7 separate regions of the Homo sapiens genome follow, and all the other regions are reported to be linked to region 4. Evidence: microRNA targets listed by miRTarBase, many of them from high-throughput screens and not tested one by one. Region 4 holds a microRNA gene; each other region holds the end of a gene's coding sequence.
The links. Region 4 holds the annotated microRNA hsa-miR-4271 (GGGGGAAGAAAAGGUGGGG, at 2,392-2,410, shown strand). A microRNA usually pairs through its seed, bases 2 to 8, with sites in the 3' UTR of a target mRNA and lowers its output. Matches are read on the target gene's strand: a 7mer-m8 pairs with bases 2 to 8, a 7mer-A1 pairs with bases 2 to 7 and ends in A, and an 8mer does both.

Region 1 (4,346 bases), not on the chromosome of region 4:
GACTCACTGAGCCCCAGAATAGGGTTTTCAACCAACTCCTACTAAAATTAAAAAGTAATGTGTGGTATAGATTGGAATAATAGACATTGGAGGCTACAAACGATGGGAGGCGGAGAGGGGTGAGGGTTGAAAAATTACCTATTGGGTGCAACATTCACTATCCGGGTAATGGGGCACTAGAAGCCCACTCCACCACTATGCAATATATGTATTTGTACCCCGTAAATCTATAAAAATAAAAACTACATTAAAAATAATAATAATGTCTGGTCATCTAAATAGTACCTCTACAGCTTATTAAGTGCTCTGGAGACGTCCCAGTTGCCTGTCCTTCCCATTAAAGGTGATATCCAGTGCTGATTTCCCCTTCAACCTCGGGTTCCCATAAACCTCTTCTTTCTCACTCCTGCTGCCCTCCGGTACTCCAATAAAGAATGATAGATGGGCCGGGAGCAGTGGCTCACGCCTGTAATCCCAGCACTTTGGGAGGCCAAGGCGGATGGATCACCTGAGGTCAGGAGTTGGAGACCAGCCTGGTCAACATGGTGAAACCCCGTTTCTACTAAAATACAAAAATTAGCTGGGCATGGTGGCGGGCCTCAGTAATCCCAGCTACTCAGGAGGCTGAGGCAGGAGAATCGCTTGAACCCGGGGGCAGAAGTTGCAGTGAGCAGAGATTGTGCCACTGCACTCCAACCTGGGCGACAGAGCAAGACTCCGTCTCAAAAAAGAAAAAAAGAAAAGAAACAGTCCCAGTATGCATCCATGTGCATGTGCATGCAGGTGTATCTGCCTGTGAGAGCTGCGCACGCGGCTCTGAGTACCTGGGAAGACACCCATGTACAGATGCTGTACATGTGCGGGGTCACTCTCTGGCGCATTCGGAGGCATGAGGGCTACGTGCAATGCGAGGGAACCTATGTCCAGGCTTCCTTTCTTGGTTTTCCTCCTCTGAACTCATGCATCCCTTCACAAACAGTCCAGCTCCTGGCTAAAAACCTATGTGTGATTTTTCAGCCCAAACACAGGCAATGACAGGTTTTACCTGGCAGGCCTCACAGCTGAGTCGTGCACAGCTGATGCGTTGCAGTCTTTAAAGACAGTTGCAGACACAGACTCAGGCCTCCTGGACAGTCGACCTCTCACACACATCTCCGCTCCCAACCCAAGTCTTCATTCAGACACGTCTTCATTGCAGTGGGGTAGGCCTTCGGCCAGGACCTCCTTATCTTGGGGAGTGGAGAATCCTTGAAGACACTTTCCTCCATGCTGACTCAGAAGTTTTCCCACTCTCCCTTCCCCACCCCATCCCTGGCCCCCAGGTCCGTACAACTTCAGGAGCCTTTTTGTTGGAAGCTTTTCTGCAGTGAGACCAACCCCACACCTGTGCTCATCCACCCGACCCCAGTTGGCATCATTCTATGAGGAAATTAGAACAGGTGGATCTGTGTTCTACAAAATAAAACAAACCAGGTTCTCTGGTTTAGCCTCTTTCTTGTACTGTAATAATAAGAGATTTGGGGCTTGGCTATTACTTGCTTTGACTTTTTTTGTTTTGAGACAGGGTTTCGCTCTGTCACCCAGGCTGGAGTGCAGTGGTGCGATCTCGGCTCACTGCAACCTCCGCCTCCTGGGCTCAAGCAATCCTCCCACCTCAGTCTCCCTAGTAGCTAGGACTACAGGTGCACACCATCATGCCCAGCTAATTTTTATATTTTTTATAGAGATGGGGTTTCACCATGTTGTCCAGTCTGGTCTCAAATTCCTGAGATCAAGCAACCCACTGGCCTCAGCCTCCCAAAGTGTGAGGATTACAGGCCTGAGCCACCATGCCGGGCCATCATTAATCAGCTACTCCAGCACTTAGCAGTTCAGCTCTCTCCTGCTCAGCTGAGCTCCTGATTGTACAGTGGTTAAGAGCAAACTGCCTCTGCCACTTAGTAACCTGGTGACTTGAAAAATCACTTTGCCTTTTCATCCTTTGGTTTCTTCATCTGTAAAATGAAAATAACAATAAACAATACCTACTTCACAGGGTGGTTGTTGTGAGGGTGTAGTGAGTTGATGTATGTAAAGCATAACGTAGGTTCCATTGAAGTGTTTGCTATTGTGTTCAACAGGGTCCATTTCTGCTTGGAGATCCACATGGCTCTGGGGAGTACCTGTTGGCTCAGCCTAGGTCACGTGTTCCACCTTAACCATCCCTTCCCTGCTCCAAGGTAGAGCCCGTGACCTGAACTAAACCAGCAGGCACGCTCCACCTCCAACACCGGCTCAAGGTGGGCGTGTAATATAAGCTGGTTCAATTAGAATGAATCTTTTTTTTTTTTTTTTAAAGACGGAGTCTCATCCCCCATCACCCAGACTGGAGAGCAGTGGCACAATCTCAGCTCACTGCAACCTCTGCCTCCCAGGTTCAAGCAATTATCCTGCTTCAGCCTCCTGAGTAGCTGGGATTACAGGTGCCTGCTGCCACGCCCAGCTCATTTTTGTATTTTTAGTAGACACAGGGTGTTGCCATGTTGGCCAGGATGGTCTCGAACTCCTGACCTCAAGTGATCCACCCACCTCGGCCTCCCAAAGTGCTAGGATTACAGGCGTGAACCACTGTGCCCAGCCCAATTACAGTGAATCTTAATACACTGGCTGAAAATTCTGGGACACAGCCAGTCTCTCTCTTTCCAACAGGACATGTACAAGGACCTGTACAACCCTGGGAGATGCTGGCATATTGGGGCCACAAGCAGTGCTGACCTGAAGAAAAGGGCAACACCTCAGAAAACAAAGTAGATAAATAGAAACCAAGTCCTTGGTGCCATCACTTGATTTCTGGACAAAGCCTCACCTAAGCTATTTATTGACCTGAGCCCTTCATAGTTTAGGCCAATGTGATTTGGTTGTTTTGTTACCTGTAACCAAGTATCTTAACACAAAGTGGATCTGTGAGTGACCAGAGCCTCTTGGGGGTTGTAGCAATCTAGTAGTTGGCCCAGAAAGGCCAACTCTGAGATGGAGTGTAGGGTGCAGAATGTTGAGTAATGAGTGCTCTTGGAATCAACAACTGAGGAAGACAGAAATATGCAGGATTGGGCACAGGGAGAAGTTCAGCTGCAGTGCAGGCCCAAGGGTAGTTGCAGCTGAGCCTTCAGGAAGTTCTGGAGCCAGAGTAGCCCTTCTGAGTTGTTCCAAGCACTGAAGGCCTAGCAAGTTCCAGGGGTATTAAAATCAATAAGCCTGTCAGCCCCGACAATGCCCTCAATAGGTCTGGGCACAGATTGGAGAGAAGCTGGGCTCCCACTGCACCAGGAGGGAGTGGCCCAGAGCCACTGAGCCATGGAGACTCAGGCAGGGGGTTGCTCCAGCACTTCTTCTGGAGAAGTTTTGAGCCCCAGATGCAGTTAGCACAGTTGCCCGCCCCTTATCATAAGACGAAGTCCGTTCCCACCACATCTTCTGCAAGACCTAGCTGGGGACCCCGAGACACTGGCAAAAAAGCAAATGTAAATCCAGCTTTATTGGTAAAAAAGGAATAGCAGATTTAATCAGAAATTCCCACCTGGCCCAGCAGCACCAACCAGAAAGAAGGGAAGAAGAGAGGAAAAAACCACAGGAAGAAAGAAAGGAGGGAGGGAGGGAGAGGAGGAAGGAAGGAGGAGGGAAGGGAAGGGGGGAAGAAGGGAGGGAGGGAGGGAGGGAAAGAAAGAGGGAGGAAGGGCAGAGGGAGCAGGGAGACTGTAGATCAGGGTCTGAATGGAGATCCGGTCCTGGAAGTAAATGATCCAAGGCTCCAGGTGCTGGGAAGAGAGCAGGAGGGGAGGGCGGCCCATGGCACTGCCATCTAGAAGGGTAGTGGCTCTTCCACAGGAATGTTGAGGATGACATCCATGTCTGGGGTGCACCTGGTGGGAGGCAGCACAGAAGGCCATGAGAGACCAGAGGTGGCGGTGTGGGAGCACCCACTCAGAGGAGCCCTGCTCTTTAGAACTCTGGTACGTACTTGGGTTGGGGGGCAATCCCAAAATACAATCTGTGATCTATCTGTGACCTCAAAGCCCAACTGTGCATACACAAGCATACACACACACACACACACACACACACACACACACACATACACACACATCAAAAATGGAAAAGAAATGAGTTTGGCAGGACAAATGTTCCCCTGACAAGTCTGAGGTCAAGAGGGAGCAGGAACTCAGCTCTGAAATGCTGAGGGCCCTCAAGATGATCACTGGCTTTGGAGTGAGGATGACAGGTTTGATAACTTTGACCTGTGTCACCTTGAGCAAGCTATTTCTACTCTCCCAGCCTCACTCCTTCAGTTGGCACTTAAGTGAAAAGCA
Region 2 (4,346 bases), not on the chromosome of region 4:
CTCCTGACCTTGTGACCCACCCACCTCGGCCTCTCAAAGTGCTGGGATTACAGGTGTGAGCCACCATGCCCGGCCAGAACCCCTTCTTCTTCTTGTACCTAAGGAGTGGGTAGGAGATCCTGGTATGTATTCTAGGTGAGTGTGGGCCAGACAATGGTGCACACCGTGGCGCCCTGGGCCATGCAATCCAGTGTGTTTGGAATAGAGAAATGGAATATGAGTAGGTATCAAGTGCCAGCAGGCAATGGCTGTGTCTGTGCCAGGGACATGAGGACCATAACCCAGCAGAACCAGCTGCCCAAATGCCATGCGACGGTCAACACTGAAGACCCAGGACAACAGCAGCTAACACCTGGAGGCAACAGGGTGGGCCTGTAAGGAGCACTCAGCCTCCCTCCCCATCTCGTGCTCCCGTGTACACTCTCAAGGAGATGCTGGTCTTCCTTATCTGGATGCCATCTGGCTTCTCCACCTACCTCCTTCTCCAGGGAGAGGCCTCTGACCTCACCCATGTCCTCTCTCAGAGATAACCACCCCGGTGAGCCCAGCCTGTCTTCCAGCCTCTGCATGCCTCAGTTCTGAAAGAACATTTGAAGGGATGACAGGCCAGGCGTGGTGGTTCATGCCTGTAATCCCAACACTTTCAGAGGCCGAAGCAGGCAGATCACTTGAGGCCAGGAGTTCAAGACCAGCCTGGCCAACATGGCGAAACCCCGTCTCTACCAAAAAAAAAAAAAAAAAAAAAATTAGCCAGATGTTTTGGCACACACCTGTAATCCCAGCTACTCAGGAGGCTGAGGCATGAGAATTGCTTGAACCTGGGAGGCGGAGGTTGCAGTGAGCCAAGATGGTGCCACTGCACTCCAGCCTGGGCAACAGAGCAAGACTCAGTCTCAAAAAAATAAATAAATAAATAAATAAATAGACGACAGTGGTGGTAGTAACAATTACAATTATAATAATATGGCTACCATATATTGAGTATTTACTATATGCCAGGCACTGTGCTAATGCTCACAACAGCCCTAAGAGGCATTATCTTTACACAACAGTGGAATAAACTGAAGCTCAGAGAAGTTGACACAGCAACATGGCTAATAAGTGGCAAAGCTGGGATTTGAACCCAGATCGTTGTTGATGTTCTCCAGCACCTCACCCTGACTATACTCTTGCAGGCTGGTGAAAGCAACCAGGGCACCCCTACTCCCAGGAGTGAAAGCAGTGGCTATATTTCTCTTTCCAATACTGTGTGGGCTCTACTCGGACAGGGGTGGTGGCTGGACTTGGGCAAATATCCCACACTCCCTGACACTCACTCCAAGGGTGCTGTGATGGTGGACCGGGGCTAGAGACCCCAGGCTGCTGGGGACAGCTCCTCCCTTCTACCTGGGACTTTGTGCCTCTCCTGGGAATAGCAGCTGATACTCCCCAGAACACGCTGGAAGGTCAGTGCCCTCGTGAGATAAGGATTCCTTGCTATAGGACTCCTCTCTCTCCTAGCCATGTTGGCCTCAGAAAGTCCCCAGAACCTCTTCCCCTGCCACTCAGGCTTATGGTGGGAGGAGGAAGTATGAAAAGTCCCCTCCACTGAAAGGCCAGAAGGAAACGCAGCGCTCCCAAGGGAGAGGTGACTGGGGAAAGGCCTTGGGGAGAGAAGTGAGAAACTGGAGAAGGGCTGGGGATTCACTGGGAAGGACTGAGCACCACTTGGGACCCTGGCTCCACGTGTAAACCATTGCTGGAGTGTCCCCCTCCTTGGCCATGGCACAGGTCACCCCAGCCTCTGGGGCCAAGGCGCAAGACCTGTCGGAGAACAGCCAGGCAAAAGCACAGAGAATTTTGCTCTCTGACTACCGCTGCCGCCGCCAGTTCCCTCACAGCCCCCTTGGGGGATTTCCCTGCTGAAGCCAGCAGAAAGCCCAGCAGTCCCAGCGCCCCTCCTGCCACCGTCAGAGCTGCACTGATGCCCCACCAGCACCTCAGCGGGAGCCGCTGCCCACACCCCTGCCCCCTCCCCTCAGCCTTCCAGGAAGCGAAGGCCAGACACAGGGAAACAGAAACATGTTGCCCTTTTATTTGCGTTTCTCAGAATACTGTACAAAGGGAGTAAAAATCCTATTCACACTTTGCTTAGAAAGATTTTAAGGTGAAAGTTCCCTATGATACACGGGGTGGGAGATGCAGGGTCAGGAGGGAGAAAACAGGCCCAGTGACCTCTCCCGTTCCCTTGGACCCCTGGAAGAGGACACAGGGACCCACACCTTTTCAAAATTAACACTGCCCCTAGTCCAACTGGGGAGGGGAGAAGGCTCCAGCCCAGGCTCAGGCTCCCGGCCTCACTTTCTTCTCTGCAGGCTGAGACAGTGCCTACAGGCCACGTCTTGCCCCTTCCTCTGTGCTGCTTGAGCAGGGATCCTACAGGACTCTCACCACAGACCCCACATGGGGTGGCCTCACAACGCCACATGTGGCTGCCACATGAGAGGCCCTGCCCAGTGCCAGTCTGTATGAGGAAGTTAAGGGGTGAGGGCCTGCAGAGGACCACAGCACCCATCGTTTCTGTCACAGCTTCCCCATACCCCCGCAGGAGTCAGGGCCAAGTTGGACCTGTGCTTACAATGACTCACGGGCCTTTTCCCCACCTGTCTACCCAACAGCCAACCCAGGAGTTAAACCCACAGCAGCCTCCCTCCCCTATTACTATCACATTCTGTGGGTAAATTAACCCTCCAAGCCTGCTTCCCTCCCTGCCCACATCCCAAAGGAGATTGGGTCTAGCTTCTGTCCCTACCCCTCCCTCCCTTACACCAGTCCTCTGCTGCTATGTGGCCCCATTCTTCTAAGTCTCGACTCACTAGCTCTCCTACAGCTCCCCAACCTCCACCAGGCCAGGATGGCAGCAGCCCTGGCCCCCTCACCTCTGGAACCAAGCCATCTACACTCTACCCCATCTTTCCCCAACCTGACCCTCCCCACTCCCAACCAGGACCCACGGTGGGTTGCAGAGAAGCTGCCAAAAGCCTGGGACTTGGATTAGACAGCTCCCTACCCAGAAAGGCAAAGACCCATCCCACACTTGCTTCCATACACAAAAGCACACACTGCGTGGCATCGAAAAAACCTAGGAATCACAGTGAAACAATCCAGAAGCCGTACCGCCCTCTGCTCCCTATGCAGGGGTTAAAGTGCTTTGGCTGCCTGAGGGCAAACAAGTGAGCAGGGGTTTTTCCCCTGGCCTCCTGTCGCAACTGCGTGGTCCATGTTCAGCCCAGGAGCCCAGCCCATTCCATGACCAACTCCATGGAGTCTCTATTCAAAAAGCAAAAGGAAAAGATCAAAAAATTCAGAAAAGGTCAGAGCCCAGGGGGCCTACCCCAACCCCACTACAAGCTACTCCAAGTTGGCTACTGGGGGAAGCGAGGGGGGAAATTAGGCCAGAGGCTCAACCCCCATCTCTGGCAGTGTCCAGAGGCTTCTTCTTTCTGTCTTCAGTGTTGCAGCACATGCCTTTTACCCTACCCCTCCCCTGCCACCCTGGGCAGGGGAAGGGGCTGCACTCTCAGTACTTATTGATTCCAAAAATCCGGACTCCGTGGAGCTGGGGCAGCTTGGGGATAAGCACGCTCATCAGGGACACGGTGTTGAGCACAAAATGGATCTGGTCGTACTTAGTGTAGAAGCTGGTGAGGAAGTACCTGGGAGGGGAAGGGTGGGGAGAGATATAAAAGACTGTTGGGAGGACCCCTTCCTCCCTCACTTCCTGGGAGGGGAAAGGCAGAATCCCAACAGCTAAGGAGTTACAGAAGAGGTTCCCAGACCAGCGTAAGAAGCAAGAGCTCTCAGGCTAAAGGGGCCCCTCCTGGCCCAGTACCGCCCCCACCTCCCAGCTTCACCCCAAGCCTGTAGGCCTATCTCACTAGCAGGAAGGAAGCTCCAATGGAGGAAAGATGGGGCCAGGGAGGCCCAAAGCCTGAGTCCAGTGTAAGACCCAGGAATATTCCAACTTCCTCTGTTCATCCCTACACCAGGAGCCACGGCAGGGTTAATAAGCATGGCTGGGCCCTGGGGTCCTCCAGGCCTTGCCCTGCCTGCTGGTGTCTTCCTGTAGCCCAGGCACTCACAGCACGATGGGTGTGATGGTCAAGAACTTCCGAGAGGCCGTGAACTGGACCCCATAATCCATCTGCTCCCAGTGGGTTAGCAGCCTCGCCTTGCCCTGGTCCGGGGTCTCAAAGGGTGTCCCCTTCACCGTGTGCAGGAAGATATACATGCCCTGGAGGAAGAAGTCTTTGTTAGAGGATACAAAAGGGAAAGGCCCCCCTGCCCAGCTCCTCCACCCAGTCACA
Region 3 (4,346 bases), not on the chromosome of region 4:
GAACAGGGCTCTGCTTAACGACAGCTCTTGCTGGACCATCATCGGCACCGAGTCGGTGGAATTTTCCTTCAGCACCAGCCTGGCGTGTACCCTGGAGCCGGTCACTCCGGTGCCTCTCATCAGCACCCTAGAGGTGAAGCCGGGCGCTAGGGGCGTTGGGCAGGGGGACCCTGCCTGCACTGGGCAGTGGTGGTGCTAGTGAGTGGGGGGCAGCGGGTTCCCGCCCTACTTGGTTCTCTCACCTCACCTGGTCCCACCCTCCCCCAGCTGAGCGGCGGGGGCGACGTGGCCACGCTGGAGCTCCACGGAGAGAACTTCCACGCGGGGCTCAAGGTGTGGTTTGGGGACGTGGAGGCAGAAACCATGTACAGGTACGGGGTGGTGAGGCAGCCTCTCTTGGGCCCCGGGGAGCAGGGGAAGGGGGTGCACGCGTCGTCGGAGTCGCCGCAGCCCTCACCCTGGTGCTCCACCCCCAGGAGCCCGCGGTCCCTGGTGTGCGTGGTGCCGGACGTGGCGGCCTTCTGCAGCGACTGGCGCTGGCTGCGCGCTCCCATCACAATCCCCATGAGCCTGGTGCGCGCCGACGGGCTCTTCTACCCTAGTGCCTTCTCCTTCACCTACACCCCGGAATACAGCGTGCGGCCGGGTCACCCCGGCGTCCCCGAGCCCGCCACCGACGCCGACGCGCTCCTGGAGAGCATCCATCAGGAGTTCACGCGCACCAACTTCCACCTCTTCATCCAGACTTAGGCGCGCCCGGTAGCCCCGGCTGCCCACCCTGGAGGGCTGCGCCCGCGCCAGGCGCGGGGACGTGTTTCTGGGTTCTAGGCCCTGCTTCCTTGCCCCTTTGCTGCAGAAGGGCAGCTGAAGGCTCACCCTAGAAACCGGGCCTGGTGGGTCTTACCCGGCTCACTCCCTCCCTTGTCCTTACACATACAGGAAGACAAGACCTGAGTGGTGCTGTCTTTGTGTCCGTCGTGTATGGCTCTCCCTGTCTTCATTTCTTCTCACTCTGTCTCTAAACCTCTCTCTCTCTCCCTTCCCCCTCAGTACTTAGTCTACAGACCTATGTGCGTGTCCCTATCCTTCTGTCCTTTTCTCTCTTCAGCTCTCCCTGCCTCTCACACACAATTTTACATGCCCCGAGGAGCCAAGTTTGGGACATTTACCCTCCAGGCATCTGTGTCCCCTCTTGAAGAGAAAACACACAGCTTCACACATCCAGGCATAGGGGGCAAGCTCTTGGGGCATCAGGACCCTGGAGCACCAGGTCCTTCCTGGAATATTAGATCCACCTGGAGCACCGGGTCTCTCTAAGTCTCACCTGGGGAATTCGGTCCCACCTGGGGCACCAGTTCCCACCTAGAGCACTGTGTCCTGCCCTAGAGCACAAAGACCTGCTCCTCCCGAGACTCTCTCTGACTGCAGCCAGGCATAGTACCTTTGCCTGTGTTTGCTCCCTGGTCCACAGATTTGGTGGCTGGGCAGGTGCCTGGACAGTGATGAGGTCTTGCCGCCTTAACTGTCCCCCCCAGTCACTTCTCCCACAGGCCCAGCAGGACGCAGTCCTGAGGATCAGGGATTCTACAGCTGCATTAAAATCAATCCTATCCAAGGCAGAGTTTGGTCTGTATGAGCCACCTCCCCAAGTGTGCCTCCCCCAACCCTCGCACCAACACACAAAAGAGGGGACCTGCACAGAAAGAAAAGAACCACAAGTCTGATGGAGCAGAGAGCCTACCTTTTGGACGTTTTCTAGAGGAGGAACAGGGTGCAGAGGCAGCTGGCATCCTGAGTCCCTGTCCCTGCCCTGGGGTTGTTACCCTACTAGCTATCTCTCCATCCCAAGCAAGGGTGCACCCCAGGCCCAGAGGTGACCACGGGACCCTTTCAAAACAAAGCTTTCCCAGGATAGCCCTGGGCAGAACTCCTGGGATTGACTGGGCAGTAATGTAGTTGAGAGGGGGGCCTCTCTGCATGGGGCTGATGGACAGAATCACAATCTATTCCCCACCAGCCTACCCACCCTAGGTACCACTCTACCCAGTCTGTGCTTTATAGGGAAGGAAAAAAAAACCAGGCAGAACACTGGCTTGGGCTATTGGAATCAAGGACACAGATAAGTATCATGGGTGCCAGCTACCTGCACCAGCCTCTGGTGGTGCCTGATGGGAAAACTGGTCTGAAATGTGGGTTCTAGGTTCTAACCCTCTGGAGAAGAGCTTGCCCTCCTAAGGAAGAGCTCATTTCTTGTAAAACTCCTCCCCCAGGGTATGGAAAGTCCCATGAGAAAAAAGAAACGAACAATACGCAGAGGAGAGGAAATGGGGTATGTTCTTTAGCCTTCCCAAAGTCTTGACTAAGTTCTGCCATCTGCCATCAGCAGGCTGCAACCCACTGTGAGGGGTGAGGAAGAAGCCTGTGGCCCCTGAAGGTGAATCTTGGCTGAGGAAGGCAGCAAATGAGTTGAATGGGAAATGTCCCTGAAATGAGCGCCTGACTCACCGTCCATGGTGGTGTTGAAGCAGGCAGCCAGGAGGGAGGAGGCTGAGAAGAGTGTCATAGCGCACCACATGGGGAATTGGGGCTCAAGCGCTCATCGTCCAGCCCTGCCCCCAAAGTCTTCCTCCACCACTCCTCAAGGCAGGAGTCCCAGAAGCCAATAATCTAGGTTGGACCAAAAGCCCAGACCCAGCCATACAGCTCTGTCTTAGTCCTCACCCATCTCAGGGGATCCTATAACCTTTGGTGTCCCCAAGGTATCCATCTGGAAGTCTGTGACCAAAGCTCCAGCCCTGGCCTAGCTTCTGAGTTCCAGCTGCTGAAACTGTCCTTGGAGGTCTTCCTTGCACTGAGTCTGAAGCCATCTAACATCAAACTCCTTTCCCTCTCCACCTGCCTTGCAGCACCACCTCTAGCTCCTTCCCCCACACCACCCAGTCACCCAGGCCTAAGGATCCCACCCCCACTTCCACACTACCATATGCCTCCTGTTTTCCTCTCCCTCCACTACTGCCCTGCCAGGTCCTGTGTCGCCTCTTCCAAAATTTCCCAAACTACTCTAGGTAGAACTAGCTATATAATTTGTGGGCCCCAGTGCAAAATGGCCCGTTGTTCAAAAATTATTCAAGAATTTCAATTCGACTGAACACGGGATTAAAAAAAAAAAAAGAACTTCAAGACAGCCACAGGAAATGATGAAACCAAGTGCAGGGGCCTTCCAAGCACAGGCTGCACAACCACGAAGCCAGCCCTGGCCCCAGGCTTTTTTCTTGTATTCCCACAGACCCTCAATGGGACCATATCGACTGCCTGCTTTGGATCAAAGGTTTTACCTACATGCCCATTGTCTCCTCTAGGCTGCCATCTTCATGGGGAAAGGAGCTCTTATCTCTGCATGTCCTAAAGGGTGCATCACAATGCCTCGCATGTTGAGTTGGTGCTCAATAAACAGTGAATTGCATTATATGGCATTGGCAGATATTTAGATATTGCTAATGCAAAGTGAAACCGGCAGGTGGCACTGTTCTCCACCCGAGCATTAAGTTCTCATTTTATTTATATTTAAAAACCGGGCCTTAATCCCAGCCCTTTGGTAGGCCGAGGCGCAAGGATCACTTAAGCCCAGGAGTTCGAGACCACCCTGGGCAACATAACAAGACCCCCTCCCCCATCTCTACAAAAAAATGTAAAAATAGGGCCGGGCGCAGTGGCTCACGCCTGTAATCCCAGCACTTTGGGAGGCCGAGGCGGGCGGATCACGAGGTCAGGAGATAAGAGACCAACCTGGCTAACCCGGTGAAACCCCGTCTCTACCAAAAAATACAAAAAATTAGCCAGGCGTGGTGGCGGGCGACTGTAGTCCCAGCTACTTGGGAGGCTGAGGCAGGAGAATGGCGTGAACCCGGGAGGCGGAGCTTGCAGTGAGCCGAGATCGTGCCACTGCACTCCAGCCTGGGGGACAGAGTGAGACTCCGTCTCAAAAAAATAAAAAAATAATAATAATAATTAGCCGGTGTGGTGGTGCACGCCTGTAGTCCCAGCTATGGGGTGGGGGCGGGGGGATGCTGAGGAGGGAGGATCACTGGAGCACAGGTAGTGGAAGCTGCAGTGAGCTGTGATTGTGCCACTACACTCCAGCCTGGGTGACAGAGGGAGACCCTTTGGGGGTTTATGCACAGAATTCTACATACTTCCAGGGAATTTCCTAACACTAAAACCCATTTATGGATTAATTTAGTCCTCTTTATATTAGAATCATTTGCCACGCTATAAAAATTAATATACCGGGCCGGGCGCAGTGGCTCACGCCTGTAATCCCAGCACTTTGGGAGGTCGAGGTGGGT
Region 4 (4,346 bases):
GGTCTTTAGGGTAATAAACTGCTGCCCAGCCAGGAGCGGTGGTGTGTAACCTGCAATCCCAGCAACTTGAGAGGCTGAGGTAGAATAATAACTTGCGCCCAGGAGTTTGAGACCAGCCTGGGCAACAGAGTGAGGCCCTGTCTCAAAAAAAAAAAAAACAAAAAAAAAAAACAAAAAAACCTCCCTGATGTTGGTGAAAGCCAAGGAAGATGGTGGGTAGAGGCAGTAATGACTTCAGTTTACCTCCTGGGGCTACTGGAGGAGACTCAGGCCACTGAAGTCACAGGCTGGCAGGGATTTTACTTTGTGGCCCAGGGGGTGTACCCTACCCTCACCAGGCCTCCCTTTCCTCCCTCATAACCTGGAGATCCTTCAGAAACAACAGCTTCAGGCAGCACCCACGGTTATACATCCCTTTACTAGGAGCTGTAGTATGAGTTTTTTAAAAACAGGGCACATTGGCATGGTTTGCCTGTAAACCCAGCACTTTGGGAGGCTGAGGCAGGAGGATCACTTGAGACCAGGAGTTCAAGACCAGCCTGGGTAACAAAGCAAGACCTTGTCTCTATTTATAAAAAATACTACTACTAATAATAAAAAGACAAAATAAAAAATAGAGCACATGTAGTTCACATACAGGACATTCAGATTTGTATGTAGAAAAAAAGTCTGACAGGATGTATGCTATACTATATCTATATTAACAGTGGTTATCTCTGGGTGGTAGAATTATAGGAAAGCTTTTGACTTCTAATTTTTCTCCTAATCTTTTTTTTTTTTTTTTTTTTTTTTTTTTGAGACAGAGTCTCATTCTGTCACCCAGGCTGGAGGGCAGTGGTGCGATCTCGGCTCACTGCAACCTCTGCCCTCTGCCTCCTGGGTTGAAACAATTCTCATGCCTCAGCCATCCAAGTGGCTGGGATTACAGGTGTGCACCACCACGCCTGGCTAATTTTTTGTGTTTTTAGTAGAGAAGGGGTTTTGCCATGTTGCCCAGGCTGATCTCGAACTCCTGACCTCAAGTGATCTGCCCGCCTCAGCCTCCCAAAGTGCTAGGACTAAAGGTGTGAGCCACTGTGCCCAGCCCTTTTCTCCTAATCTTTAATTACTGACCCCAGCTAAATTACTCTCTCCTTTTTGCCTATGTCCTGTTTCCTAAAAATTTAAGCTCAATCACCATGTCCTAGTGGCCACCATCCCTTGCCTTCAGGGACTCAGTGCATCTAAACATTGATGACATGACCTGATTGATGTATCTATCACCTCACAAGATAATCAGTTGTATGAGGGAAGGGACAGGTTTTGTTAACATTCAGTTCCCTAATCAATGCAGAGTCTGAGCAAAACATCTACCAAATAAAAAGATAAGAGTGTTTTGGCCGGGAGTGGTGGCTCTTGCCTGATCCCAGCACTGGGAGGCCACAGTAAGTGGATTACTTGAGACTAGGAGTTCGAGACCAGCCTGGACAACACAGCAAAACCCTAATACAAATATTAGCCAATCATGGTGGCGTGCACCTGTAGTACTAGTGTAGTACTATGGCTACTTGGGAGGCTGAGCTGGGAGGATCACCTGAGCCCAGGGAGGTTGAGGCTGCAGTGAACTGTGATCGTGCCACTGCACTCCAGCCTGGGTAATATGATGAGACTCTGTCTCTCCCCCCAAAAAGTGGTGGTGGTGTTTTTTCTTTTGAGATGAGGTCTCGCACAGTTGCCCAGGCTGCAGTACAGTGGTATGATCATAGCTTGAACTCCTGGGCTCAAGTGATCCTTCCACCTCAGCCTCCCTAGTAGCTGGGATTATGGGCACACACCACTGTGCCCAGCTAATTAAAAAAAATTTTAAGAGACAGATCTCGCTATGTATGGTACCCAAGCTAGAAGAGAGTGTTTTTTGTTTTTTTTTGAGATGGGAGTCTCACTCTGTCCCCCAGGCTGGAGTGCAGTGGCAAGATCTCAGCTCACTGCAACCTCTGCCTCCCGGGTTCAAGCAATTCTCCTGCCTCGGCCTCCCGAGTAGCTGGGATTACCGGCGTGCACCACCACGCCTGGCTAATTTTTGTATTTTTAGTAGAGACGGGGTTTCACCATATTGGTTAGACTGGTCTTGAACTCCTGACCTCATGATTCGATCTCCTCGGCCTTCCAAAGTGCTGGGATTACAGGCATGAACCACCGTGCCTGGCCGAGAGCATTTCTTATATCTGAGATATTTGCTGACTCAGACCCATGTGAAGGACCTATCTTCCCAAGGACAGGATGGACTTGCCCACTGTACTCACCAATCATATCAAGCAGATCCTTTGTGACCTCTTGGCTAGAATTGTTGAGTGGCATGTTTGAGTCAGCCTTCAAATCTCTCTCCATATCTTTCCTGCAGCCCCCAGGTGGGGGGGAAGAAAAGGTGGGGAATTAGATTCTCTTTCAAGAAAATATTGAAGGGAAACTCAGTTTTAGATAATCTCAAAGACAAAAACTTACTGGTGACCTTGTCATTTATGCTTTGATTAAAGGACAATTGGAAACTGCTACATCAGTGGAGAAATTGACTAACAGCTTTACCATAATGACTCACGAGCATCGCAGACTGTATTAAATTTTTTTCTTTTTTAGAGACAGGGTTTAGCCATGTTGCCCAGGCTGGTCTCGAACTCCTGGGCTCAGGCGATCCACTCGCCTCAGCCTCCCAAAGTGCTGGGAATACGGGCATGAGCCACCTCACCCAGCCTGCATTTGTTTACTTATTTATTTATTTTTATTTTTTATTTATTTTTTTGAGATGAAGTCTCGCTTTGTCCCCCAGGCTGGAGTGCAATGGCGCAATCACGGCTCACTGCAACCTCTGCCTCCCAGGTTCAAGTGATTCTCCTGCCTCAGCCTCCTGAGTAGCTGGGATTACAGGCGCCTGCCACCACGCCCAGCTAATTTTTGTATTTTTAGTAGAGATGGGGGTTTCACCATGTTGGCCAGGCTGGTCTCGAACTCCTGACCTCAGGTGATCTGCCCGCCTCAGTCTTCCAAAGTGCTGGGATTACAGGAGTGAACCACCGCGCCTGGCCTGTTTGTTTTAAAGACAGAGTCTTGCTCTTGTCGCCCAGGCTGGTGTGCAAGGGCGCAATTTCGGCTCATCGCAACCTCCTTCTCCTGGGTTCAAGCGATTCTCCTGTCTCAGCCTCTGGAGCAGCTGGGATTACAGGCGGCCGCAACGGCACCCAGCTAATTTTTCTATTTTTAGTAGAGACGGGGTTTCACCATGTTGGCCAGGCTGGTCTCAAACTCCTGACCTCAGGTGATTCATCCGCCTCAGCCTCTCAAAGTGCTGGGATTCAGGCGTGAGCCACTGTGCCCAGCATTTTTTTTTTTTTAAGATGGAGTCTTGCTCTGTTGCCCAGGCTGGAGTGCCATGGCAAGATCTCAGCTCACTGCAACCTCTGCCTCCAGGATTCAAGCAATTCTCCTGCCTCGGCCTCCCAAGTAGCTGGGATCATAGGCGCGCGCCACCACGCTCGGCTTATGTTTGTATTTTTAGTGGAGACGGGGTTTCACCAGACCTCAAGCGATCCACCCACCTCAGCCTCCCAAAGTGCTGAGATTACAGGCGTGCCACCACACCCGGCAAGGCCTGCACTGCTTATGAGTACCAATATAAATATTTGTGGAGTTGAAAGGAAAAAAATTCTTGTGGAGTTGAACCAATTAAATGGCCTCTTTATCCCCTTCCTATGAAGCAGCCAAGATGGCAGAACTTTGAAGTTTTTTTTTTTTTTTTTTTTTTTTTTTTTGATACGGAGTCTCGCTCTGTCGCCCAGGCTGGAGTGCAGTGGCGTGATCTCGGCTCACTGCAAGCTCCGCCTCCCGGGTTCATGCCATTCTCCTGCCTCAGCCTCCCGAGTAGCTGGGACTACAGGCGCCCGCCACCACGCCCGGCTAATTTTTTGTATTTTTAGTAGAGACAGAGTTTCACCGTGTTAGCCAGGATGGTCTCGATCTCCTGACCTCGTGATCTGCCCGCCTCGGCCTCCCAAAGTGCTGGGATTACAAGTGTGAGCCACCGCGCCCGGCCTGAAGTTTCATCTCATACATTCATCCCTTCTCCAAGTCAAGGTGCCTGGGACCAGGCAATTTCAAGTTACTCGGGAGAAGAAAAAGTCTAGAAGAGACCTGGTGATGGTCCAAAAAGATCTGGGGTAAGAGCGGGGAGCAGAGGCAAAGATGAAGCCAGGAAGTAGGGCCCAGCCTTCAATTAAGCCTCTCCCTAATGTGGGCAAAGGAGGGTATCAAAGGCCCCAGTGTCCAGATTCAAACACAGGAGTTAAGATGGAATTAAGACTTTTGTTTCTGCAACT
Region 5 (4,328 bases), not on the chromosome of region 4:
CAGATGTAAACATTCAGAATACTGACCAAAAAAAAAAAATTGTACAAACGAACACACATTAAAAAAAAAAAACTACTGAAAATATGTATCATATCAGGTTTCCATGAAGCAGGGGAAGGAGGGGAATACAGCAGTACAAGAAAATTATGGCAACCAAGTAAAGCACTTTCTTTGAAACATTCAAGAACAGTACAAATACAACAAAGTTTTTCTACAGTCTAAATTATTCTGCAACTATCAAATATAGTACAAAGCGAAATAGTATGTGCTATAAAAAAGCAGCTCCTTTAAATTATAGTAAAAATGCTTTTTGTTCTTTTTACAGTGACAAAGCATGAAGACTGAAGACGACAGGAATTTTATATTTAGTAACATTTTGGCTACATAGGCCCCTGACAGTCTGATTCAGAGTTCCTGTTCTAGGACTCTTCACAATTGTTCTCTGGGAACGCAGATGGACAGTGACTCTGGGCTCTGCATGCTCAGGGGGTCATTCCCACTAGGCAGCTACCGCTGTGCTGGGCCTCACCACCGTACAGACGATGCTACCCTAGGCTTGGCTTCAGCTTCTAAAACCTGGGACTTCATTACACCACGGAGGAACTGGGAAACCAGAGGCCACGGTAACTTCCACTTTTGAAATTGTGCGGGGGTTTGTAAAGGAAATGGGGCTACAGCAACATGTATTCTTACTCTCGACTGCATTATAAAGCACCATATGTACCAGCTTGTTTTTGTGTATTTTGAACCGAGTAAGAATATCCAAGGTCCAGCAGTCAACTAAACTTTCTATATAGCTCATCCCAGAAACACATACCATCCCAAAGTCTTTATAGCAACCAGGCTCAACCTCATAGGTTTGTTTTCAAGTTTTTTTTTTCTTCAAACTAGACCTTCGCAGGGAAATATTATATAACTATGGTGCTCAGTTCACCAAAATTTCTACTATTCTCATTTTGGGGAAGAAAAAATTATTTTCATTTTGAAAATGAATTTGCATCACAATGCTCTTATTAACATGCCCATTAACTAACCTAAATGTCTTTATACACCTCAGGCATATGCATATCTTATAGGAGGAGGATTAGGGAATAGCAGTTTTCTTCCTTCCCCTGCTCCAAAAGTGCTACTTAGGGAAATACATCCTTTGTGATTAAAAAAAAAAAAATTGTATGGTACATGTGCAAGTTCTATTCCTGATAAGAATAAAACTGTGTCCAGTAATCAGGATAATGCACATGCTAACATTTGCACACTACACCACAATAACCATGTAGTAAATAATATACTACATTTGCACATAGCAGACACATGTAGAAATCAGAAAACTAAGAACCTACTCAGAATATACTGGATTTTGTGTGTATATATATATTAAATGGAAACCTATAAAATATCTGACCCACATTTTACATCTAAATTTCTCTTCTTCCTTTCCCTTATATTTTAGCTTAAAGATATTAATTTTTCAGTAATATAAACCATATGAGAACACTAGGAATTTGAACTGGAGCAAAAAAAAAAAAAAAAAGGGCGCAGAAAAATTATGCTAATCGGACCTGGATGATAGAATCCATGCACTATCAACAACTGATTCTCCAAGCCTGTTATGTGAAAAATCAAAACATACAGAAGGACACTTTTTCTTATTCCCAATAAGCAACTTGCAGGCAGTATTCAACAATGAAGGAACTGATAATGAGCTCAGTATCTCATCAGCCTCAATTGTACCTCACATACTGAGTGCAAAGGTTCTGTAGACTGGAGTTTCTTCCGACACCATGTCAGTTACTGATGTGATGGTTTTCAATTTGCTGGTGTAGACAGTATCTGACACTGGTATAGCAGTGAATGAATTTGGAAGGAGTTGGCATGCAAGTGTCTATATTATAGGGGTGCCCCGCTGTGAGACTAACAGCATGATCTTCGAAATCAGGATGATATCAGAGCCAGGCAGACAAAGACACCACTGATAAGGATGCCACCCCAACACAACCTGGCAGGCAGTGAAGAGAAAACTAAGGATCCACTGGAACTTATGCTGCTTTCCTCGGGTAAGGCTGGTTAAGTGCATTGCTAACTAACTTTCTCAGTCATTAGTTTTGCCAATTTTACTGTGAAAAACAGAAATGACAGTACTGAAGCACCAAAATCATGGCTACAGCAGCAGGCCTTTTCTTTCTTTCTAAGATAAAGTAAAGTACCTCTCACTATCAGCAATTTGTTATTCGAAATGATGTCTCTATCACCTAAAGAAAGAAATTTGGCAACATCACAATAAATACGGAGAAAAAAACATATTATATAGTTGGTTATTATAAAAAAATCACAAGTGTTCTTGTTTTCAGGAATGTAATTTCTGCTCATTCCAGTCAACTTTTAAGACGTGTTTTACGGGAATGTCAAAAAGTTTACAGTGATTAGGATGATCCCATGTGAAAATATTGGTCATTCTTACCCTGGATACAGATGATTCCCCACCCCCCCCATGTTTGCTTTTTAAATTCTACAGCCACAATCAATCAATGGGTTAATGGCACTCCACATTTTGTGCTCTGTAATCTGAAGTTAAATGGGCATGGTTGGTTTTTGTTTTCTTTCATCTTCCCTCAATGTGCATGTGCTTTTGAACTTGCTTTTGAAAACAGAGCCTCCTGAACTACGGCTGTCCTCTGGTATGAGGGTGGCCAAAATATATGGAATGTAGCTCAAATACTCAACACGCAGACTTTACTGGATGCACACTGAAGATAACTGTTAAGATGCAGTATCCCTTTTTCAAAAGCAGTTCCCCCAAATATGAAGAATGTATTGAATATACCTGAGGGAAAAAACAAAACATGCCATACCTAGAACAGTTTTTTTCAAAATAAGGGTTATTTCAAAGTTGAATTATATAGGTTGTAAATAATGAGAAAAGCAATTGTTCTGAAAAATGTTGACGCTTTAGCCTTGGGTAGTCCCTTTTATCATCAATGACACTTTTAAAAAGATATGGCCAACCTCTGCAAGGTCTGAAGCCAGAATGAATGGGTGTCATCAATAAAGGGCTACAATGATTTCCACCCCCCACTTTTAATATCTAGTAATTCATTAGCGTGAATAGGATATTTACATTATCAATGCATTTATGTGTGCATATACAGCATCTTATTTCCTTGCTTTGAAGTTTAGGGTCTTTTTTTTTTTTTTTTCAAACCTGCTCTTAAAAGCCACACATGAAGCTCTAAAATCCTCTGGGCTTATGGCTATTGGCTGGCCAATTGCTCTCATATTATCAGGTGTCAAAGGCCTAGAACCAGATTGCTGGGCATGAGTCCCATGCAATTTCAGATGTAGGACACATTTCACTACAATATGTGTACAAAATCCAAGGAAGATCCAGATATTCTGCCATAGTCTCTGAGAAAGTACAACAGGAGGAAAGATAATACTCAGGACAGTGGATTTCATTAATGGCATACCTCCTTTAATATATCTTTTGTGATAGGAGCAAATACAAGGAATCACACATTTAAATCAGATTCCCCTTTCTAAATAGGATTTAATCACTGTGGTAAAGCTAGGTTCAGAGAAGTCAACTGTAAAATTCCTTGCTGTAATGGCTCATCTATAGAAAAATGCATAACCACTTTAACTCATTCCTCTCATTCTCCTTACACATCTGCATTTCCGGTTATTAAGTAATTAAAAATGTCCTTTTCCTATCTACACCTCGGTTAAAAGAAAAACAAAAATGGGGCATTGACTTGTATACACATGGACAGATAGAAACTTTCCAAAGCTAGGAATGGCAACTGAACACATAAAAGACATGCCAGTGAGCCATTCAGTTGGGATGCATCCTCCCCTTTATGAGAAATGCAAGAAAATAATGCCATAGAGGAAAGGTACCTGCTCCAAAGCAAAATAAATTAGCATGATAGAAACCACTGCATTATTCTATTTGTTGTTGCTGATGCTATTTGGCTTTTCCGTGTGGAAAAGGGATACTGCATCTTTCACTCAGCTCTTATCGTACAACCAGGCATGCTACACAAAGTTTTGAAGGACCTATGCAGTCGTCATGGCAGAAGGCCCCACAGCCTTTGCACACAATCATGGCTTTCAGCCGGCAAGAGCATTTCAGTTCCAATTCATCTGCATTGCTGCTGTCGGCAAAGTTCTGAACGGGCATCTGAGCGTTCTGACCAGACAAGCCTGTGGCAGGATTGGAGCCACTTCCCAAAATCCCAATGGACTTTTCAATTGCAGATGCTGCCCTTTTGAAACTCGTGCTACCAAAGTGTATTGTTGGATAATTTCCACAGAGCTGCTGTTGTTGCTGC
Region 6 (4,315 bases), not on the chromosome of region 4:
GGTATTAGCACCCTTGCCTGGAGCTGTCTGGTGGCACCGAGAGGACTCTAAGATACATGGGCTGTGTCTTTCCTTGCCCTCCCCCAAAGAATGAAGGTCCCTTTAGGATCACCTGACCGCGGCTATTGTCAAAGACCACCAGGATCCGAACCCAGGGAAGAGGCCTTCCTTGCCAGCATTCTTTCCTGTGCATGACATACTTTGAGCTTTGCAAAATGTTTTCAAAATTGTTCTGAGCCCTTCCTTCCATGCAACTTCCTTAGGAACACAGAGCCAGGATCGGAAGCAAACAATGGGACCAGACTCTTCTAGTTAAAAGATCATTGAGACGATATTGTCCCACCTTTTTGTTTTTCACATGAGACATGCAGGTCCAAGGAGTGAACAGAGATGCCCAGGACCATATGACAAGTCAGCAGCAGAGTTGGCGCCAAAGCCAAGACAGCCAGCTATTAGCTAATAGCTGGGTTCTCAGTGCAGCTTGGATTTCAGAGTCAGACGGACCTAGGTTCAAATTCTGCCTTTACAATTACTGGCCATGTGACCTTGGGCAAAGTATCTAACCTCCTGGGACATCTGTTTCCTTGCATGTAAAACAGAGATGGTCATATCTCCCAGGGCTCAGCAAAACCACATATGGAAAGTGCTTAACACAGTGTGTAGAATAAAATACAGCCTGATGAATGTTCACCATCATCATCATTGGTGTAAACTGTTATTGTTATTTGAGGAGGCAGTCTCAGATAAATTGAGGGTTGGGCTGCGAAACCGTGGTCTGCAGGGCACAGACAGGCCCTGGCCCATGGCCACTCCCAGCGGTGCTTAGCTATGTCCTCATTAACAGCTTCCCTGTCTCTCCACAGGCTAGTGGAGCTCTTCTCCACGGTGCCCATCGGCTCCCACTGGGGGGTGCTGTCCAAGTGCTTGGCGTACAGCAAGGCCGCATCCGACCCCTTTGTGTACTCCTTACTGCGACACCAGTACCGCAAAAGCTGCAAGGAGATTCTGAACAGGCTCCTGCACAGACGCTCCATCCACTCCTCTGGCCTCACAGGCGACTCTCACAGCCAGAACATTCTGCCGGTGTCTGAGTGAAGGACCGCGCTCCTGCTGAAGAGTTTAGAATGAGGCAGCGGTGAGAAGAAGGGTGGGAGGGCGTGGGGGCCCCTGGGTGGACACCACCAGCCACCAGTCCCTGGCATGCCCAGTGATCCTGGTTCCCTGGCTTGTAGGGGCTCCAGAGCCTGCTTCCTGGTTCCTCAAGGGCAGATATTGGACACTCCTTATTTGTCACCAAAGGATGACTGTAGGCCGTGTGCTGGCCTTTCTTTCTAAGAAGCTGCTTTGAGCTCCTGGACTCACCTGAGGCTCCCTGGGGGATGACACTCAGTTCTGTCACTGTCAAGGATGCAGAGAGCTGGTGGTAGGTGGGAAGCATGGTGTCCACCTGCCTGCTGACCACTGGACGCTGCTCCATGCTGAAGAAAAGTGACAGTCTCCAGGGGACATTTCAGCCATGCTGAAAGGGAGGCTGGCAGTGGTCATTTGGCCCGGATCTAACATGGCACCTCGTCTCCACAGGGTAGTGGTGGCTGCTTCAACCCAAATATTATTCAGCTGGTACTAACGACATTGTGCCCAGCTGGGACTCTTGGGCTCTGTGCCTGAGGGAAAATGTTTCACAACTAGTGGCTGCCCAATTGCTGCTGACCAGTTGTCTTAGAAATGGTCAATTGGATTCAACTTTAGTCCTCTCCTTCCCCCTAAAAGCGAATGTTTGTGTGTGCAGACAATCTTAGCATGAAAATGGTTTAAATAGGCTGGTCCTACATGTATTAGGTTCTTTCAAGTTTGACTGGGAGGTCACCTTTTTCTGATTTACAAGTCCTAATTGTTGGAGCTCAGTAAAGGTAGGAGGAAGGTGGCTGGTTGGTCCTCCCTTCCCCCTGTTTGTGACCTGAATTTACAGGAAGTGTTTCAACTTGTCTTATGCATCTTATCTGGCATGTCCTGGGAGATGGATGGGCAAGAACTGGCCTGAGCAGGGATTTTTGCCTTGATTTTAAGTCACTGGGTTCCATTGTCCTGGCACCTCCATTTCCTTAGTTTCTGTAAGCCTGTTAACAGAAAGTAGAGGCTATTCAAGGTTATCAAGAAAGTGCCCTGTGCTAATGATGAGACAGTGAATTTTTTTTTTTTTTCGAGATGGGAGTTTCACTCTTATTGCCCAGGCTAGAGTGCAATGGTGCGATCTAGGCTCACCACAACCTCTGCCTTCCAGGTTCAAGTGATTAGAGACAGTGAAATTTTTATGGAATACTGCACCTATAAAACACATGCCAATCTGTTAGCAGTCCTGACTTGATTTAATAAAAACCAAGGAGAGCCACCCCTGCTTTCTGGCCATCTCTTCTTTGTCTACCATTTCAAATTGACTTGTGAATACTCAGAGCAGTTATTTTTCAATCCTCCACTCTAAGTGATTCCTCCAGGGTGGGAAGCACGGGGAGCAATGGAATCAGATGGCTCATTCTCTCCTTCCAGCTCTTTACATCCTAACTTTGGAGGTATAGAAGGAAGGATGTGGTCCAACGGGAAGGAAGTGAAGAGTCTATTGGTTTTTACTTCTAGGCAGTCCCAATTTTTAAAGGCAGAGAAGTATCTGCATCTTTATTTGAAAAGACGTCTTATTAACTCTTAGCTCCTCAGTTAGAAAACAATTCACCTGGCTTAGTCTTGTCTAGTTTCAAAGTTACCATGGAGACTAGAATGGAGACAGGTGTAGCTTCCAAGGAGGCCTTGGCATCTTGCAGTTGCTGTCAGAGATGGGCTCATATCTGCTTGGGGAAGCCAATGGGGCACAATCCTTCCCAATTTCATGATCTGGGGCATCATGTCGGTAGCTGAAGTCAGCCACGGTGGGAGTGTTTATACCATGAAAATCAGCAAGTGCTGTAAATCAGGCCTTTTGCCCCACAGAGAGCTGATTGTGAAACATCTACTAGCACACCACTGCCAGACATGACTGTGTGTGTCCCTGAAACAAAATTGCTCTGGCTCAGAGCTCCTTTGGCCACTCATATTACAATAGCAACAGACATTTGCTTCCTGGTGGCAAGTAACTGTGCACCCTCCAACATCCCAACCCCAGAGGAACCAGTGGGATTGAAAACCAGCAGAAGCCAAGACAGGATGCACAGCTGAATTGGAGGAGAGTAGCTCCCTTCTCACACAAACGCTTTCAAAGTTGGGCAAAAGTGGCCCAGTGCGTGAGGTCAGTCAACAGCCAAATTCCAGCAGCAAAATACATTTTCATCAATATCACTTTGGGAGAATAACTGTGGCACATGCTCTTTCTGCTTTCTCTGTACTGTATAGGCAACATGTTGTACTCCCAGTAGCAACTAGATCTCTTTTACCTCTTCTTTAGCCAAGAAGCAAGATCTGTCACCCACAACACCACATATCTTGAAAAGATGCTTTTCATAATTTTCACTATACCTCTAAAACCAATTGTACCGACATCACGTAGACAAAAACTCCAGATAAATCCATTGATTGGGTATTTTCATTATTATTTGGACACATGAATTAAATCCCAAGGGAAAGTGAGAAGAAAATTAATGTATTAGCAACCAGTGTTAGCCAACTCTGCTGTAATTACCTTTAGATAAATGTTTATTTTCATCTCTATACAGTCTATCAAATTTGCCCCCTGGCTTTATTACTCCCAATTGAATTATCTACCTCATTTTGTTAATTTAATTTATCAAAGGTAACATTGTTTTCTCAGGTATAACACATAGAAACACCAAGATTTTCAGCATCTGAATCAAACTAAAATTACTTGCTTGACTTCACTCCAGGGTGAGACTTGACCTTTAAGGCCCAAACTCTGGTGAACTGTTGGACTGGGTAGAAATCTTTCAAGAAGCTTGAAAATAAGGCCATAAAGGAGGGGCTTTCAAATTCCTAAATCCACATATAGGGCTGAGTTCCTAGTCCTACACAATCAGAATTTGCCTTTTTAAGTCACGCTGCAACTATTCCGGCTTTTTATATGGCACCTTTCTGAGGGAGGGGATTTTACAGCCGAGGGACCTCCAAAGGGAACGTCCATTTGCATGTGTGCCCTGGTATTTAGGGTTTGTCTCATGGTCAGCTCGCCTCTCAAAGATGGCTCACCAATCACCTGCCTGTTTTTACTTAGAAAGCAGGCTTGGGCAGGAGGGGAAATGGATTTGAACCATCTCAGACCAACTCTATCTCTTCTAGCACTCAGCTCAGCCTCCTGTCCCCATGAGCAATAAAACTC
Region 7 (4,346 bases), not on the chromosome of region 4:
CTGGAAGGGGGACACCAGACCCAGAAAAGCGAAATCACCTGCTTCAGATTGCTCTTATGCTGCCTTCAACTTAAGGCAAAAAGAAGATGAATTTTCCAGCTGGGCACAGTGATTCATGCCTGTAATCCCAGCACTTTGGGAATACAAGGTGGGCGGATCACGAGGTCAGGAGTTTGAGACCAGCCTGGCCAATATGGTGAAACCCCATCTGTACTAACAATACAAAAATTAGCTGGGTGTGGTGGTGTGCCGCTGCTAGTCCCAGCTACTTGGGAGGCTGAGGCAGAAGAATTGCTTGAACCCGGGAGGCAGAGGTTGCAGTAAGCCAAGATCGTGCCACTGCACTCCAGCCTGGATGACAGAGCGAGACTCTGTCTCAAAAAAAAAAAGAAGATTAATTTTCCAGTTGTGATGGTGCTATAAAATAAAGCTCGTTGTTTTCAAAAGCTAATCCTGGGTTGGGCATGGTGGCCCACGCCTGTCATCCTAAGCACTTTGGGAAGCCAAAGTGGGTGAATTGCTTGAGCCCAGAAGTTTGAGACCAGGCTGGGAAACATAGCAAAAGCAGTCTCTATGAAAAATACAAAAATTAGCTGGGTGTAGCAGAAGTGCCTTGTAGTCCCAGCTACTTGGGAGGCTGAGGCAGGAGGATAGATTGAGCCCAGGATGTTGAGGCTGCAGTGAGCTGTGATCGTGCCATTGCACTCCAGCCTAGGCGACAGAGTGAGACCTTGTCTCAAAAAATAAAAATAAAAAAGCTAATCCTTTTAAGGAAAAAAATTAAATAAATAGCAGTGTGAGGAATATTTGAATAAAGCAAAAATTGTGACGGTAGTACTCAAAAGCGCCAAGATGGTGAGACGCTGCTTCAGGGTCCCTTGTGCTCTGTGTAAGTTTCCCCACCAGAGAGTAAATTTGTTTGACTCATCACTGCTGTTCATCCTGACATTTATGAAAGGCTCTTCAAGTTTTCTGGGATGAATGAATGAAGGAATGATTATGAGGCAGTCCTAGGCTGCAGGAGGCTGTAAAAGGTGGATTGTCTCACTTGTCTGTTTTCCACACACCCGTCCTTCCCCAAAGTTATCGGGAGCCCACTGGGTGAGCCCCTGTCCCAGAATCTGGTGTTCCATGTGGAAGATCCTCCTCCATGCGGAAGATCCTCCTCTGGTCCCTGCTGCCCCGGCAACCTGGGCCCTCAGGCGTGGCTGGGCTAAGGGTGGGGCCAGGAGTCAGGCAAAGGAATGTGCACTACTCCTGGCCAGCTGCCAAAGAGATATCAGGAAGGAGGTGGTTGCTATGGCAACTGGGGCATCTTGGGAGGTGAAGAGAGGTGATAGGTCCCGCCACCCCAGGCTGGGTGGGGTCCCCTGTGAGGTCCTGTGTGAGATGCAGGTTTCAATCTTGACCCTCTCCCCTCCTTTTGCACCTCCTGCCGTTGCCCCTGCAGGACTGGCTTCTGGCCAAGCTAAGGGTCCATTTCAGGGATAGGGACCCGGACCCAGCTGTGCTCATGCATCCCTCTTCTGTTCACTCCTAACTCTCCCTCCTGTTCTCTGGCAGGGTGGAGGGAGACTCTCCCCTCTTCCCCCCTCGCTCCCCAACAATTCATTAATTAGTTTCCTTAAGCAGCTTGCAATGCACAACATGCTTTTCCTCCCCCGGGGTTTCCCGAGACCTGCGGTCCCCTGTCATGCTGTGACTGGGAAAGGGGGAGGCAGAGGAGGTTGGGTTGAGGAGTCTGTCCTCCCACCTCTGCCCGTCTGCTGCCATCGATCCTGCTAACCACCACCTCTGCAAAAAGAAGCCCTGGGCTCCCGCCAGGCCTGCTGCCTCAGCCCTGCCCCCCTCCCTAGGGTAGCTTCCAGCCTCTGCAGCCCCCCCCACCCCCCGCCCTGCTTCGGATTCTGCAGATATGGCTCAGTGCAGCAGCCCCCGCCTGCTGGGAAGCGCGGAAGGGAGGGAGCCATCCAAGTGGAATTCGGGTTCCCTTCACTGCCAGGGGCTTCTCAGCACCCCTGGTCCCCTGCCCTCAGTGCTGGAGACCCTTGCTGGGCACTGGCTCCCTCTTGAAGCAGTCTGTGCCTTGCTCATCTGCAGAAGCAGGATTAGCAGTGGGGGCTATTAGGGGGCGACGGTAGAAGTGGGTGTTTAAGTGGGTGCATAACTGGGTTAATTGGTGTGGAATGGAAATCAGTGTGTGGCTGGATGGGGGCAGTAGGGGCAGCTAGGTGTATACCCAACAGCACCTCTGGGATTGGAAAACACCCCTGCTGTGGGCTGGAAGGAGGGTCCCATCGCCCCATTCCCACACATAGGGTCTCACTGCAGTGGTTTGGGCCCCACCCCACATGGCTCCCTTCTTCTCTTTCTACTCCCCTCTCTCCCCATGGGTCCGTCTCTCTCCCTCCGTCTCTCTGCTTCTCTCTCCATAGCGGTCTCAATCCCACTATCTCCCAGGCTCTCATTTTTTTTTCTCTCTCTCTCTGCATCTCTGTCTACTGCTCTCAGCCTCTCCCCTCCACTGGGAATCTCTCTGAGTCCATCTATTTGTCTTCCTGGGTCTTTGTATCTGTGACTCTGGATCTCCTGCCTCTCTTGGTCTCTGTCTCTTCCAGGTTCTCCCTGTCTGTCTCTTGCTATATCCCTTCTCTCTGTCTCTTCCTTCAGCTCTCACTCCTTTCCTCTGAACCTGGCTGTCAAGGGTTTCAGGAAACAGACACCCTAGGAGACAGCACTGGAAAGAAGAGGGACATGAACCTCCTCCCCTTCCCTTGCCCACCCCAGGGACCCTGAAATCTTCCAGAACGTCTCTGGTCGCAGACCCACCCGCTCCCACCCTGCAAGCTCATCTCTTCCCCGTCTGCTACCACCACGGTGCGGGACCAGCCACCCGGTTGCCATAGCGACCTGTCCGAGCATCCCTTCTCCCGGGACTGCCACTCTCCAACCGCAGGTCTGGCACAGGACGCCTGCCGGGGAGGGGGTGTCCCAGAGACCCGGAGGGGCGATCGGGGGGGCGCATTACAGGGGCTTCCGCCCACAGGAGGAGCGGACCTCCCTCCCCCAACTCCCTTGCCTTACCATTGCTTGAATCTCCCGACACCCTCTCTCCTAGGCTCTCAGATCCCGGAGCCCCCCTGCAACCCCCTCCCCAAACGACGCTCACCCTTTGTGGGGGTCTGGGTCGGGGTCGCCATGCTGGGCCGGAGCAGGGGGCTGCTGGATGCTTTGGCGGCGAAGGCGCGCTGCAGCAGCTGGAAGCAGGACGGACCGATGTGGGGGGGAGCTGGGGGGAGCCCTGGCGTGGGGGGGCCTGCAGCCAATGGGGGCCCGGGGAGCCCGCCCCCGTGCAGGCCACCCCCGCCCCCGCCCCCGCCCACCACCGTCGTCCCCGCCCCTTCCTCTAGGGTGGGGCGCCCCCTGCTGGGGCCCAGTGGCGCTGGCGTTTCGCGCTGAGGGACCGAGACCGACAAAGTGCTGTCGAGAGGAACGCACGTTTTATTGGAAGTCTTGGCGGCAGGGGGAGTCTGCGGGGGCAGGGCTGGGGAAGGGGCGGCGGAGGGGGCGGTGGGCGCGCAGGTGGAGCGTGGGAGATGTCAGGTGCCAGGGGAGTCCTGTGAGGGTGAAAAGGGTGAGAGGCGAGGGGGGACGTCCAGCCCCACCCCTCGCCGCCCTTCAACTCTGGCACTTGGCCCCCTCCCTCTCCCGCCTTTCCTTCCTCCCTCCTTCCCTCCCACCGCCGTGTCAGAGCTGCAGCACCTGGCCGGATTCCATCGCTCCAGGTGTTTCTACCGCCTGCGGGTGGACAGACCTGGGGGGAACACGGAGATCGGGGGTCATTCTGGAGAGGCATCCCCAGCTCCTGGGCAGGTGGGGCCCGCGGCGGGGCAACTCCCCGCCCTCCGCTTTCAGATCCAGCCCTTCCCTCTACGCAGCCAGGGAGGGCCGGGAAAAGCGGTCCTTGGAACCAGCCCTCTCCCCAGAATACCCGCAGTCTCCCCAGACTCACGGCGGATGGAGCTGCGGAAAGTTCCCTCCTCTTCATCGGGTTCCCCAGTCCTGGGAAGACAGAGGCAGAGGGATTTCGGGATGGAAAGGGGGAGAGGCTGCCCTTCTAGGAACCCCCCAGTACAAGCCTCCTTTCCCAGATTGGTGTAACTAGGCCCAGATATGGACGAAGAGCAGGCTCGGGGTCCGCCAGAAATGAGGAGCACCCAGGAGCAGCTTATGTGCTGGCAGGGGGCTTCTAAGCTGGTTAACAGTGAGTACCTCCGCGGATTTGGGGGCAGGGATGTGAAGTTGGTGGGGGAGGGATAGTCATGGGGACTTGGCAGACTGCCATG

Region 1: the mRNA of C20orf96 is a reported target of hsa-miR-4271. Seed matches in the 3' UTR shown: 7mer-m8 at 3,668-3,674.
Region 2: miRTarBase lists ORMDL3 as a target of hsa-miR-4271. Seed matches in the 3' UTR shown: 7mer-m8 at 3,542-3,548 and 7mer-m8 at 3,411-3,417.
Region 3: the mRNA of RBPJL is a reported target of hsa-miR-4271. Seed matches in the 3' UTR shown: 7mer-m8 at 1,039-1,045.
Region 5: the mRNA of ASXL3 is a reported target of hsa-miR-4271. Seed matches in the 3' UTR shown: 8mer at 958-965 and 7mer-m8 at 112-118.
Region 6: miRTarBase lists GPR26 as a target of hsa-miR-4271. Seed matches in the 3' UTR shown: 7mer-m8 at 1,757-1,763 and 7mer-m8 at 1,940-1,946.
Region 7: miRTarBase lists FXYD1 as a target of hsa-miR-4271. Seed matches in the 3' UTR shown: 8mer at 3,546-3,553.

The regions. Positions count from the first base shown.
Region 1 is chr20:267,369-271,714 of GRCh38, forward strand. C20orf96 (chromosome 20 open reading frame 96) reads right to left here. Exons shown (of 11, transcript NM_153269.3): 11 at 3,495-3,899. The coding sequence ends at 3,839. Among named protein-coding and RNA genes, the nearest start is that of DEFB132, 12 kb to the left of the region's middle.
Region 2 is chr17:39,918,991-39,923,336 of GRCh38, forward strand. ORMDL3 (ORMDL sphingolipid biosynthesis regulator 3) reads right to left here. Exons shown (of 4, transcript NM_139280.4): 3 at 4,122-4,273; 4 at 2,053-3,695. The coding sequence ends at 3,560. Among named protein-coding and RNA genes, the nearest start is that of GSDMB, 2.5 kb to the left of the region's middle. RefSeq lists an enhancer at 4,341-4,346.
Region 3 is chr20:45,316,210-45,320,555 of GRCh38, forward strand. RBPJL (recombination signal binding protein for immunoglobulin kappa J region like) reads left to right here. Exons shown (of 12, transcript NM_014276.4): 10 at 1-133; 11 at 268-371; 12 at 477-1,615. The coding sequence ends at 750. Among named protein-coding and RNA genes, the nearest start is that of MATN4, 10 kb to the left of the region's middle.
Region 4 is chr3:49,271,767-49,276,112 of GRCh38, forward strand. MIR4271 (microRNA 4271) reads left to right here and starts at 2,354; the gene lies at 2,354-2,420. C3orf62 (chromosome 3 open reading frame 62) reads right to left here. Exons shown (of 3, transcript NM_198562.3): 2 at 2,283-2,374.
Region 5 is chr18:33,746,280-33,750,607 of GRCh38, reverse strand. It overlaps ASXL3 (ASXL transcriptional regulator 3), which reads right to left. Exons shown (of 12, transcript NM_030632.3): 12 at 1-4,328. The coding sequence ends at 4,013. Among named protein-coding and RNA genes, the nearest start is that of ASXL3, 170 kb to the right of the region's middle.
Region 6 is chr10:123,687,066-123,691,380 of GRCh38, forward strand. It overlaps GPR26 (G protein-coupled receptor 26), which reads left to right. Exons shown (of 3, transcript NM_153442.4): 3 at 864-4,315. The coding sequence ends at 1,095. Among named protein-coding and RNA genes, the nearest start is that of GPR26, 23 kb to the left of the region's middle.
Region 7 is chr19:35,142,188-35,146,533 of GRCh38, reverse strand. FXYD1 (FXYD domain containing ion transport regulator 1) reads right to left here. Exons shown (of 8, transcript NM_021902.4): 6 at 4,013-4,062; 7 at 3,763-3,814; 8 at 3,425-3,617. The coding sequence ends at 3,792. It overlaps FXYD7 (FXYD domain containing ion transport regulator 7), which reads right to left and starts at 3,279. Exons shown (of 6, transcript NM_022006.2): 1 at 3,170-3,279. The coding sequence starts at 3,200. RefSeq lists enhancers at 2,496-3,057, 3,058-3,618.